Homo sapiens: one gene and its partner. The protein of the gene in region 1 interacts with the protein of each later gene in a pairwise test. Each region holds a gene or a part of one and is shown on either strand. Other genes may lie near its edges.

Region 1 (3,817 bases):
CTGATTCCTAGCAGAGACTCCAGGAATATTTGTGGAATGGTTCCTCAAGTTAGTCTCAAGGCTATGAGGGTCTTATATGTGGAGGATGGGTAACGAACACTACAGATGTGGGTGTGCTTACTCTGAGCCCCAGAGAAATAGTCTAGCTTCATCCAGAGTCATTGAGGGGGTGGCTTTGATGCAATTTTGCTTCTCTCCCAGTGGCAGCTCTGAGCATGAAACATGTATTAAATAGATTGGGCTTCTCAAATCTAGTTGTATATTATAATCTCCAAGGGTGCTTTTAAAAAAAATCTCAATACTCATGACTTACCATTGCTATTTAATTCAGCATCCCTGAAGGTGAGACCATATATCAGTTTTTTTTGGAAGCTCAGCAGGTGATTTCACTGTGCAACCAAGCATGAGTCCCACGTCCCGCTAGAGCAGTGGTTTTCAAAGGGAGGTCCCTGATGGTCTTTTCAGCATTAAAAAAAAAAAAATTCTAGAGGAATCAGAGCAATCAGAATCATACCCCCACCATAAACTGAACAAACTCTGGGGGAGGGGCTGAGGGATCTGGGTTTTAACCAGTACTCTGGGTGATTATGGTGCTGGTCAAAGTTTGCCAACACTGCTCCAGAAGACACTTGGATTTGGAGGGTGCGGAGTGGGCCCCAGAGTCTGCATTTCTAACAATCTCCCAGAGCAGGCAAATGCTGTTGCTCTGAGAACTACCACTAAGCTGCAGACATTTTTCTTCTGAAGCTCTACTGGGGTTCCCTATCAACTGGGGCCTGAGCAACACTCAGCCATGCAGAACACAGCTGGCAAGTGATGGAAAAGCATCCGACAAAAATTTCTGAAAACCCTTCCCACAGGAACAAAATGAGAAGAAAGAACCCTTTCTCTAAGGTTTCAGGAGCACTCTCTGCTCCCTGTTTACAACAAAACAAAAACTTTTTGTTATGTCTTGGCTATGTAACATTAATAAAACAACCTTAGAGTACACTAACGATGCCATTACCAAATAGCATAATTTTTAATAAATACTAACTAAAGCATACCAATGTAAATGAGAATATTAAGTCGGTATTCATTCTAATATTTAAATATTAGAACATATATCCTGTGAAAACCTTAATGCTTTTTACAAATACTTTATTTTTCTTGTAATCTGTCAAAACATCTAGTCTCAGGTGTACTAAGTGCTGAATACGACTGTCTCCTATGTTTTCTTAAATGCACCCCAAATCTGTAGAAGTCTTGACAACTGCCACATGAGCTGTAGACATTTTGACAAGCTACGGCAACCAATTTGAAAGTCTTTTAGATATTATAGGATCTTGGTAAAATTGTGCTAATAATTTTGGCATGAAAAAAGGAAAAGTATAAACAATAAAATTTTATATACTGTTTAACATAGTAAGTGGTATTGTCCACTGTGTACTAAAATGCACTTCCAAAAAAGCCTCCTGAATCCATTTGCATAAGAAGCCATTATCAACTAGAGCACCTTCTCAGGAGCACCAGCTACACTGGTGTGTTACCAGCAATGCTTTCTACAACGTAGAGAATGTTCTCAATCCGTACTGCTCAATATGGCACCGCTGAACACATGGGCTGATTGACAGCTTGAAATGTGGCTAATCAGCTGAGGAACTTCAGTACATACTTAACTTTAATTAAGTTAAACAGCCACATGTGACTAGTGGCCACCTTCTTGGACAGCACAGTTGTCTAAGCTCCTCTGCAGTTTACAATAAATAAACCAGGGGTGCTATACTCCATTTCAATGGCTTATAGAGTAATAAATGCCTAAGAACTATTCTTTGGTTAAACAGAGAAATTTGTTTTGTAGCATCATTTGAATAAAAACAAAATTTGGGGGAGCCTCTTTTCACCCTTGTGCTTATGTTTTCTTTCACTACCGAATTTGATTTAGTAACTCTTTGTCAGTTAAGGTTACCTGAGGCTGTCATTCAAGCCAGCTGCACAATCATAGGACAGTTTATTACTACCCATCGTTGCATTAGAGATAATCGAAACACATTCCAACACATACAGAATTGTATTCACTTTAGTGTCACAAGAGTTCAATTCTACCTTAAAAGTATGTTAGCACTATAAAGCTGCAAATCTGATTTTAAAGTTAGAATTCAAGTAAAGTTTCATTTTCCTTTTTTAAACTAAAGATTACTACATACTGCTTCCCTGCAGATATTTGGAAATGTGTGTGTACATGCAAAGACAGTTGAAATAATTTTTTATTGATGTGTGACTCTGAAAATAAAAATAATGATATAACAAATTTAGATATACTTGGAATAGATTGGGCCCCATCCTTGGTCACACCATCTAGGCTGTTGGCAGAGACAATTCTTGACTCTGTCTTCATTCTCAGCTCTTTGGATCAGTCTCAGCCTCGAGGGCAACTTTATTTGTCTTTCCCACTCCTTCAAAATGAGGAACCCATTTACGAGAAATGGACAAGGAAGCAGAATGTTCACAGATAAACAACCCCATCAAGGAGATGTTCTGATTCAACAGTTTCTGATAGGTAGAGTATGGTGCACATTAAGTGTAGTTCAGTTCTTGTTTCCCTTATGGGAAATTTTTCAAGAAAAATATGGAACATTAACTCATCAAAGCTATTACAAATTATTTTATCTGTATACATATGTTTCAGATGGGTCAGATTTAGGATATATTCAGTGTCACAATTTTTACATTACATGGTGTGTGTGTGTGTACTTAGTGGTATATTGAGGCCTCTTGTGTAATTGTAGATGCATTGATATCTATTTTATAGAACTGTTTAAGGGGAGGATGTATTTACAAAGTATAGTAGAAAAAATATTGAAATGGGAAGTTAGGGAATATGTACATTATTCCAACAGCCATTAATGAACAGTACTCAAGTTTGATGCATTAATTTACTCACTGACTCAATAAACCATTAAGAAGAGCCTACTACAGTCTGGGAATCCCTACTCTGAAAATCCAAAATCTGAAATCCAAAAATCCCAAACATTTTGAGCACTGACATGAATGTCACAGTAGAAAATTCTACACCTGACACCTTTGCTTTCTGATGGTATAATGTACATAAACTTTGTTTCATGTACAACATTATTTAAAATGTCATATAAACTTACCTTCAGGCTATGAGTTATGTATGAAATACAAATGAATTTTGTCTTTAGACTGGGGGGGAGTCCCATCCCAAGAAATCTCATTATGGATACGCAAGTATTCTAAAATCGCCCCCCGCCAAAATCTGAAATCCAAAACACTTCTGATCCCCTGCATTTCAAACAAGGGATGCTTGACCTGTCTACACCATGTACAAATGAGGAGTTTGTTTTTGAAGAGCTCTCAACAATTCCCTTATATGGAGTATTTTACTTTGATGTTATTTTGGAGATCTATCGATGGAGTATTTTTGTTTGTACAGAATACTATCTGGCCACAATTAAGACACTGTTCTTTGGGGGAGTAGGAGCCCCTAAGAATATGGCACTCTTAAACCAGAAAGTGGCACTCGTTTTAGTGCCAAGCACATTTGCTTCCAGATTCTTTCACGCTGAATCTTCTATGGAGGGAGTAGGAATGGCAGAGGAGTCATAAGGGGACAATTCTCAGAACTTGAAAATTTATTCAATCCTCATTCTTTGGGGATCTGGCAGTGCAAACAAAACAAAACAAATCCCCCCAATGCTTATATCCAGTTAACAAGAGACCTGACAGCCTGTAATCTCTAAGGAATCTTGACTTCTCATCATGAGTAAGCCCTGTCACTAAGCAAAAGCACATTTTATAAAGCAGGCTCATGATT
Region 2 (4,607 bases), on another chromosome or scaffold:
ATCTTGCAGTGGAAATTAGAGGCTTTTAAAGGAGTATTTCTGCTACAATAAAAAAAAGCGTCTTACTACTGTACAACAATAAGGTTGTATTGAGAGTTACAAGTAAACTATTAGGCCTTGTTAGCTAATTATAGTATTGGCATTCACTTAAGTTAGTCAGTTTCTCACTTAATGTCATTTTCTCCTATTCAACTGCTTCAGTTCAAAACGTTTTGACTCCTAAAAAGGGAATACATCATTGTTGCCTTTCCTCAGTCTAACTGCACACCACTTTCCAAAGCAATAGCTTCAATCATGCTTCATAAAATCCCCTGCAAGTATACTGTTGGACACATAAATCAGCAAGCTGAGATTTTAGTATTTCTAAGGCAAGACCAGGGATCACTGACTGGTGGCTTTTCCATGGCCCTCTTTACAAGAGAATAAACAAAATCATGAGTTACACTAGGTCTGTTTTTTTAAACAGCTCCCGGTGGTGTGTCTGATACTTGCTGCTGCATCCTTAATTAGAGAACAAAACACTAGCATAGAGGAATTGGACTCCAGGATGAGGATATCTATATCCAAGCATCTCTGACTTCATCAGGACACATGGCATAGAAGTACTATATGTTCCCTTTCACAAAAGCTACGTCTCTCTGATATATATCTGTGTCTCTATGAGTGCCACACATTGTGAAATTGTACTAGATAGAGAGATCTTTACAATGATGGTCTCCTTCTACCCTGTTTCATTACAGTGAATATGGGCTCCCCTTCAGAGATGCTTGTCTCAGAGTGCCTCTTCATAACCACCTCGTATCCTGACTTACAAATTAGCTGAATCACAATTTCACATCTATGTTACATGTACACATCCAAATTTTATGTCTCTGTGTACTATTTAAACCTATATATCTAAACATTTCTAATTTCCTATGTCTCCAAATTCCAACACACTTAGCCTCTACAATGATAAATTCAGATTCCACAACTGAGACATTTTTCTTCTCCAAACCACTCACAATGTAATCCTAAGTCTGCATAAACTTGTTTCCTATTATGCTCCCATTCTGCCCCACACTACCTACACTTATTTAATTGCAGTTGTATTTTAACTGCAATTTTCAGGGATTGTTTCTTGGTGCTCAAAAATACCTGTCTATGCTATAAATGAACAGTTAAACACAATCAGCAGCTATCTGAAAATTAAAGAAGCATATCTGTAGGACATATGTGCATGCTGATCTTTGCTTAAGAACCACTGAATTAACGAATTGGGCTAGTATTAGCTTCAGATGGACATATCTGCAATTTTGCTAAGACTGAAATATTTCATACTCTATGTTAGGAAGGGAAAATGAGCAGAATCTTATCAAGACACTTTACAAACTATAGGAATATCCAACATTTGCATACTGATTTCTGAACATTAAATCTGCATCCAATCGTGTTTCATCCGCCACTAACACTATAGCTGTGGGGAGGAGAAGGGCAGAAAAAGGAAGGCTTCACATCCAAAATGTCAAGCCCTGCTGAAGAATGATAGAAGGACTCTGTGGAAGAGCAGAAACCAACTTCTGGGCTTAAAATGGAGTTCTACCACCCCCTGCTGGACCAAACGAGCAATACAGAAGAGGCTAAAAATGCTTAGAACTGAATATCTTGGGGATATTTTAACTTGTCTTGTAATTTATTATATTATTTTAAAAAACCAATTTCACACTACACTAACAACATAACATTCTTTGCAATCATTACATATCTCAAAATTAGTGCTATTTTATTTTTCCTTTAAAGACTTTCACCAATGCATGTTTTAGCATTTTGTGTCCCTAATTAAACGTCCAAACTTGTCTGGACAGTTGAAAATGCTTCCATTTATTGTAAATATATTTCATGTGAGTGTTTACTATCTAAACAGCCAGATAAATTCATATCTATCTCTCTAGAGACAAACAGTGATAGCTTCCACAAATTCCCTCTCAGGTTATTCTACCAGGCTATTCATTTTTTTTTTTTAAGAGATAAAAGCTTCCACCAGTTCTCCCACAACCCCAAAAATCCTCTACAGGTGTAATTACAATGTAATGTTATAAAATGATTCCACCTTTCTGTATTAATAAGGGGTTGGGGTCAAAATGAATGACTGCAACACATCCCTAGTTTTATCCATTTGCTTTCTTACACACAATATCCACGGCCCCTCTCTTAGTTTCCAACAGAAATAAGCCATCATCATTCACTTCATAGTCAGGAATTAGGGTTTTGGGAAAGGGGTGGAAAAAAAAAAGAGTCTCCAAGAATCGAACGTCTTGCACACAGCAGATATTTTGCAAATGAGTTTAACACTGATAGTTTTTGCTGCTTCTGTAAAACACCATCGTGCCCTTTCCTTCCGCAACCTCAGATATTTCACTGTTAACACACTCATCCAATTTCTGATAATAAAAATAAGAGAAAGCCATAATCCCAGAGGAAAAAAAAAGAAGAAGAAGAAGCGGTTTCCCTGGATATCCTGCTCACCGATTCCCCTCTCCAATTCTGTATTTTCCCTTCTCTTATTTAAGGGTCTCCACACAACAGATACAATTTTAGGGACAGCTAGGAGAAAGAACGAAAATAATAATAACAACAACAGCAATAACTGTAACTTTAGTTCTTTCATTTCATTCTTCCTGCGCCTCCCTCTTTGCCTCTCTTGGCCGGGTGGAAGGGGGAGGGAAAGTAAATGCAATAAAGCGCCACACTCCTACCTTGCCCGCTACTGACAAGCAACCCCAGCAGGTAGAAGGAGAGGAGGAGGCTCATGTTCAGGACGTGACACCGGTGGACAGTTTCAAAGTTATTAAGTCCAGCCCTGGAGAGAGAACCTTTCGCTGCCCCGGCCGCCTCTGCTAGAGCCGCCGCCGCCGCTCCCGCGGTGCCCCAGCCGCCCGCAGCCCGCGCGCTCCTCCTCGCAAAGTGACTGCAAGCTCCGCTCTTGCCGCACTATATCCAGGCAGCGGCGGCGGCAGCGGCGGCAGAAGCAGCAGCAGCAGCGGCCGCCGCGGCGGCAGCAGAGCCGGGCGGGGAGGGCGGCGGGGGCGGGGGCGCGGCGAGGGGAGGTGCGGCCGAGGCGTATCCCTCCGCGCTGCACGGCGGCCGCTCTTCCGCGAGGCGCGCGGTCCCGGGATTCGTCCGCAGTGGAGCTCGAAGTCACGGGTTCGGTCCCCGGTGCCTCCGCCTAGAGGGGCGGCCGCGATCGCGAAGGCGCCACTCGCCCGCCGGCCATCCGCAGGTTCATGCACGCCCTGAGCCGAGAAGGGCGTGGGGATGGGGGCAGCCTGGAGCTCCTTCACAGCCGCCGGCTGCCTCAGGACAGCTGAGCTGATGCTGAGCTGAGCTGAGCTGAGCTGATGCTCATGCAGATGCTGATGCTGATGCTGATGCTGATACTGATACTGCAGGCGACCGCCCCGAGCGCGCCCCGGCTCAACGTGAATGGGGGATCTGGAGGCGGGCGGTGTGCCCCGCAGCTTATTCCTTTTGGGCGTGGGAGGAGGGAGATTCTTGTCTCTCCGTGGACCTCCTTCTCCCTCTCTCGCTCAAACCTGGAGCAGGCTGGCCCCTTGCGCGGCTGTCCCCTTCCCACGCTCCCCACCCCGCCGCGACAGAGGGGAAGCAATTGTACCCTAAAGTCTACACTGTCTGTCTCCTCAGGCGCTAAAGGGTGGGCGGAAAAATAACGTACAGAGTGTTTCCTCTACATCTCGACCCATTGCTGTTGGGAGCGGCACCTTACGGGAGAGACACTGGAGAGGGGACGAGCCGCGGGAGGGGCTGCGTTCAACTCAGCCTTAGCCTCAGCTGTGTCCTTAGAGGCCTGAAGTCTCTCCTGGCCTCACTCCGCGGGCTCTGCCCTCGGTCCCAGTGCGCTGCACTGGCCAGATCCCCGCCAGGAGTGCACCGAGGGAGGACTGCAAATGTGCAAAGATGAGTTGGGTCGCGGGGGGGAGACCTTCCCCAGATCAGTGCCCTACCCCGAACACCCACGTACCCGCGTGTGCGAGTGTAAATTGAAGTGAGGGAGCCGTGGCAAACGCCCGGAACTAACTCTCTGCTCCTTAAGATTGGGGCTTATCGTTATTTCTCCTAGAAGGGTAGGAAAACGTTTGTGAGATTAACGTCACCTCTCCTGCAAGAGCGGTTAAGAGGCAGAATCACCGGCCCGGGTGCGGAGCCCATGTCAATCTGGCCTGGGGTTACCGCGACCTGCAAACGCTGACGATGGGTCCTTTCATCTGCACTTTCTCTCTGGCTCCTTAGAAAACTCAACTGCCTCGCCCCGGCCTCCACAAGGACCCTAGCTCCTTCCTTATCAGTGAGGACATAGAAATAGCGGGGGTTGGAGAGGGGGGAGGTAGAAATGTAGAGCTCAGAATCCAGCCCCAGCCTGGGGATTTCACGCTGAAAAGGGCAGTGCATTGCCTTCAGGGAGGGCAGGGGGCAAGAGTAGACACAGGCTAACATGCATAGGGGAGATACCGTCTGCGATTTGTCCTCCCCAGGCAGAGCGCTTTATACAGATGATTCGTCCACTTGGCATCCTGGGATGGGGTTATCAGGAAGAGAGGAGGGGAAAGGCG

The links.
Region 2: the proteins of CTNND2 (region 1) and NCAM2 interact in a two-hybrid assay, tested with the Homo sapiens proteins (one large-scale study listed by BioGRID and IntAct).

The regions. Positions count from the first base shown.
Region 1 is NC_000005.10:11,386,773-11,390,589, forward strand, and holds part of CTNND2 (catenin delta-2), read right to left. Parts: intron 1-3,817. UniProt on the Homo sapiens protein: Has a critical role in neuronal development, particularly in the formation and/or maintenance of dendritic spines and synapses. Involved in the regulation of Wnt signaling.
Region 2 is NC_000021.9:20,996,747-21,001,353, reverse strand, and holds the start of NCAM2 (neural cell adhesion molecule 2 isoform 2 precursor), read right to left. Parts: upstream 2,946-4,607; 5' UTR 2,791-2,945; coding exon 2,736-2,790; intron 1-2,735. UniProt on the Homo sapiens protein: May play important roles in selective fasciculation and zone-to-zone projection of the primary olfactory axons.